Regions from separate parts of the Homo sapiens genome. Here region 2 is linked to region 1. The links come from fine-mapping of genetic effects on gene expression. Tissue or cell type: whole blood. Region 1 holds a variant in brackets; the other region holds the start of a gene. All regions are shown on one strand. Distances are between the middles of the regions.

Evidence for each region. PIP is the estimated chance that this variant, and not a neighbour inherited with it, causes the effect.
Region 2: it holds the start of MARCO, and the variant in region 1 is fine-mapped to the expression of MARCO in whole blood (INTERVAL, PIP above 0.99).

What each region holds. Positions count from the first base shown.
Region 1 is chr2:119,030,512-119,033,196 of GRCh38, forward strand. No RefSeq gene overlaps it. Among named protein-coding and RNA genes, the nearest start is that of MARCO, 90 kb to the left of the region's middle. The variant C/T (reference allele first, on the strand shown) is at 1,167.
Region 2 is chr2:118,940,838-118,943,522 of GRCh38, forward strand. MARCO (macrophage receptor with collagenous structure) reads left to right here and starts at 1,357. Exons shown (of 17, transcript NM_006770.4): 1 at 1,357-1,560. The coding sequence starts at 1,464.

The sequences.
Region 1 (2,685 bases):
AGGACACTCTCCCACTTGCTCTCCTTCCTGGGGATCCCACCTGCAACAACGCTCAAGGTGTCCAGACTGAGGATGACCTATCAAAGTGCACACCGAGCCACAGAAGGCTGCTCTCTTAATCTTTCAATGTCCAACACAATTCAGCTGTGATATCACTGGGCCCTGGTTGTTGATTAAAAGGTAGTTTACTTTCTCTCTCTTCTGTCATAATAGGTCTTTTGAAGCGTTCCACTTCTTCTGAAGTCAATTGCGGAAACTTTTATTTGCTGGAAAATCATCCATTTCTTCTAGATTTTAAAATTATTGCCAAAAGTTACATATACTCTTCTCTTGTAAGTATTTTAATTTCTCTTGTATCTGTGGCTGTGTCTGCTTTCAAATACTTATCTCTGAGACTGAACAGAAAAACAGAGCACTTATTGGTAATCAAGAGCAGGACACACCCAAAAAGGCTTTCAAAAGCTAAAATGTGGATTTCCCAACTACACAGCATAACAAGTGAAGGAAAGAAAAATGTGGCTACTGTTGAGACCTGAATTGAGTCAAATGGAAGTAATATATGCCAACACACAGAGCAAAACTATAAGACGATGAAAATGATGAAGACAAAAGCAAGAGTTGGGGAATGGATGCATGAACCTAACATTCAAGTATTGTGGCTTCAGAAGGAAAAAAAGGGGCTATATAGCAAAAAGATAATAATTCAGTAACAGGAGAAAAATTCTGAATGGAGAAGAATGAATTCTCTGGAAATGTGAAATATTAATCTTAAATAATCTGGAAATTGAAGGGAGATATTTCAAGGGAAATTCTTACAATAGCCTAAAACTAATAGCACGAAACAATTTCAGCAACACTATTTCAGCAGGGGCAGTGGGAGGGGAAGGAGGTTAGAGACATTCCAAATGTCCATCTCAGGACTGAGAGAAGGAGGGATGAAGGGGAGGATAACAGAGGAAGGTGTTCTAGTGGTCTCATCCCATGCGGGGAGGAAGGGGAGAAAGCTGTGGCAATGTCATACCTGGTGAAATAGTTGGTATCTTGTTTCAAAGAACAATAGAGAACTATATGTTTGATTATGAGTACAAGGAAATAGAAACCATTAATAAAATTTAACAGTTTTGCTAGACACTACACATTAAAAGATGAGTAACAATTTGACCAAA[C/T]CAATGGGAAATAAGGGGAAAAAAGCAATTTAAAATAAAGTACAAATATAAAACAATAGGAAACAGAAAAGACAGGCAAGTACATTATTAAACATATAAATTATTAAATATGTGAACAAACTGAATCATCTCGTCAAAAGATACAGCTTATTCAGAGAGGGTTAAAAACCAAAAGCAGGCTGAACATAGTGGTTCACGCTTGTAATCAGCATTTTGGGAGGCTGAGGTGGGAACATTCCTTGTAGCCAGACCTACAAAACCAGCCTGGGTAACACAGTGAGACCCCATCTCTACAAAAATAAAATAAATAGCTGAGTGCGGTGGCACACACCTTTATCCCCAGCTACTCAGGATGCTGAGGCAGGAAGATCACTTGAGTCCAGGAGTTTGAGGCTGCAGTGAGCTATGATGCAGTTTCATTGCACTCCAACTTGGGTAAGAAAGTGAGACCGTGTTTCAAAAAAAGAAAAAAGAAAAGAAAAAACCTACAACATTTATACCCTTAAGGGTATAGATACACTTAAATTGGTGACAACGGATTCAAATTATAGGGATAAAAGGAGGAATACCAGGCAAATTGCAAACAAATAAAAAGCAAGATTGGCAATATTTAATATTAAATAAGATAGAATTCAAGATTATATACTAAACAGGATTAAAAAAGTGACGCATAACAACAAATTGTAAAATTTATGAAAATATTTCAAAAACCGTATGTACAAAACAACATATAAGCTAAACATATGAAGCTAAAGCTTTTAGAAATATAAGAATAGTACCAGTACCATGCTGTTTTGGTTACTGTAGCCTTTACAGTATAGTTTGAAGTCAGGTAGTGTGATGCCTCCAGCTTTGGTCTTTTGGCTTAGGATTGACTTGGCAATACAGGCTCCTTTTTGGTTCTGTATGAACTTTAAAGTAGTTTTTCCCAATTCTGTGAAGAAAGTCATTGGTAGCTTGATGGCAATGGCATTGAATCTGTAAATTACCTTGGGCAGTATGGCCATTTTCATGATATTGATTCTTCCTACCCATGAGCATGGAATGTTCTTCCATTTGTTTGTATCCTCTTTTATTTCCTTGAGCAGTGGTTTGTAGTTCTCCTTGAAGAGGTCCTTCACATCCCTTGTAAGTTGGATTCCTAGGCATTTTATTCTCTTTGAAGCAATTGTGAATGGGAGTTCACTCATGATTTGGCTCTCTGTTTGTATGTTATTGATGTATAAGAATGCTTGTGATTTTTGCACATTGATTTTGTATCCTGAGAATTTGCTGAAGTTGCCTATCAGCTTAAGGAGATTTTGGGCTGAGACGATGGGGTTTTCTAGATATAAAATCATGTCATCTGCAAACAGGGACAAGTACCAAAACAGAGACAAAGACCAATGGAACAGAACAGAGCCCTCAGAAATAACACCACACAACTAAAACCATCTGATCTTTGACAAACCTGACAAAAACAAGAAATGGGGAAAGGATTCTCTATTTAATAAATGGTGCTGGGAAAACTGGCTAGCCA
Region 2 (2,685 bases), 90 kb before region 1:
TCTTACATTTCAAATAGGCCAAAAGTCTACGGCTCCCCTGCTCCAGGCTGTCCCACCTCTGAGAGGCTGCACCTGCCCTCCTTCCTCCCTGGAGGGCCTTTGCCTCATCTTGATCTGGATCAATCCCCCATTATCCTTTTAAGCCCAGCTCTGGTATCTGATATCTCTTGATTCAGATGATAAAGCTATTTGTCATATTTCTGCCCTGTCTCCCCTGCCTCCCGGCACTTCTGTCTTTTCAGGGACATCAACCTTTGCCGCACTTCACAGCAATTTTCTGGAATGTAGTTGTAGCCGCAACCATCTTGCATGGTAGACTGTGAATATCTTTCATGAAAAAAGGCCATTTCTTCATCTCCTCGGTGCCCAGCAGGCTCACAATGTCTCTAATGATAATAACAACAACATGACCATAGTGTTTATTACCTAATACTTCCATCCTAGCCACCTTATATGATTTAATTCATTTAAGGCTCACGAAATTCATATCTTCCTTATTTATACAAACAGAAGAGTGAGATGCTCAAAGCTCAAGTGATTTGCCTACTGCCAGACAGCCCCTATGTGGAAGAGGTGGAATTTGAAGCCAGGCATTCTAGCTCTTAGTGTCTGTGTCTTAACCACCATGCTATACAGCATCCCTGGTAGAGATGCCTGACGGGAGGGAGAGAGGGGAGAAGCTACTTTCCTTAAGGAGCTCAGATCTCACTGGGGCCTGGACAAGGACACCTGTAACACATGTACACATGTGCACACATGTGTACACACACAGAGAGAGAACATGGGAAAACTACAAGAAGAAATACTAAGTGCTAAAATGTGTGGTTCAGAGCAAGGCTTCTCAAACTGTAATGTGTATATAAATCACCTGGGGATCTAGTTAAACTGTAGATTTGGATTTGATCTGATGGGGTGGGACCAGAGACTCATTGTTAGAACAAGTGAACTTGCATTTCTAACAAGTTCTCAGGTGATACTAATACTGCTGGTCCATGGACCACACTTTGAGCAGCAAGGATGAACTCTAAAGGTTGAGGCAGGTCAGAGAAGGGAGATTTCACTGTGGGCTGGAGAGGTCCTGGGACAGAGAGCTGAGTCTGGGCCCATGGCAGGGCTTGGTTGGCCCTCTCTGGAGCCATCCAGCTTTTGGGTCTCAGGGACCTGGGAGTGACGGGTGCATTCAGAGGCCCGTAACTTGTGTCCCAAAGCCTCCTCGATCCCCCTTAACAAGCAGCAGCACTGTGTGGGAGATCCACATGTGAATAGCCCGTGTTTGAGAAATGTCCAATCCTGATCATGTCAGGAAACATCCTGCAAATTCTGAAATCAGAGCCAAAGGGAAGTGCTGCGAGGTTTACAACCAGCTGCAGTGGTTCGATGGGAAGGATCTTTCTCCAAGTGGTTCCTCTTGAGGGGAGCATTTCTGCTGGCTCCAGGACTTTGGCCATCTATAAAGCTTGGCAATGAGAAATAAGAAAATTCTCAAGGAGGACGAGCTCTTGAGTGAGACCCAACAAGCTGCTTTTCACCAAATTGCAATGGAGCCTTTCGAAATCAATGGTAAAGTACGATTCCCCAATAATGGAAATGACCAGAAATGTAGTCTTTCTGCTAGCGAGATACGAAAATAGACAAGTCAATAGAAAGTCTAGGTTTGGCTTATTGCTGCATTTTGCACGTAATCATCACTAATACTGTCTGGAGTGCTTCAATTTGGAATTTCTGGAATGCTAATAATAGATGCTGTATTTTTAGCATATAGTCAGGTTTTTCTTAGCTTCACTATTGTTTTAATCATATTTAAATATTTTCCCTTGAAAAAATGCCAATGCTTATTAAATGTCCCCTTTTTTTAATGAATGTCTTATTCTGACACACAGGTTGGGTGATACAATGAAAACGCAAAACAGGGGCACTGAAAGGGGACCACAAAACTGAAGCCAAGCATGACAGTTTTCAAAACACAGCTTCTTTAAAATTCTTTAAGGGGATTTCTGTTATAACTGATGTGCTGGTCAGGAAACATATTCTGTATTTCATGTTGACTGAAATATGTTCATAGCTTCATAATTAGTTTGTCTTAGGTTAAACTCAGGTCTGTAATATTCAGTCAACTCTGTTGTCTTTATTTTCTCACTCAGCATTCAACAGGTGATGCATTTTTAAAATCTTCTAGAATTTGTAGCATTTGAAGTCATGGGTGGGCTTGCATTCCACAAATGAGCTCTGATTTCCTAGTCTAGAACGTTCTCTTGGGATCATCTTCCAAGTTGATCAGTCATTTCCACTCCCAGGCTTTGCTGGAAGTTGTCTATGCAGGAAAATTGGTGGCTTTATCTCCTGGCCAGAGTGTCCTTCTCATCCCACACCTGTCTGCCCAGGTCCCTGCCTGGAATTTTCAGCGCACAAAGATGAAGCGTCTGGGGCTCTGCCTCTAGGAATTTACAGTGTAATAACAGAGAAAGGTGTGAGTGCTAATGGCTATAATAATCATTGGCTATTTAGAACTTCTCAGAATGCAACATTCTGGATACATGACTGTTTAAGAGACTGAAGATGTTCAAGCAAAGTCAGCTGATCAAGCATACTCAGCACCTATTTCCAGCAGGGCACTGCACTCAGCACTGAGGAAACAGGCTTGAATAAACATAGCCTCTGGCCTCTGGCTTCTGGCACGAGGGGACA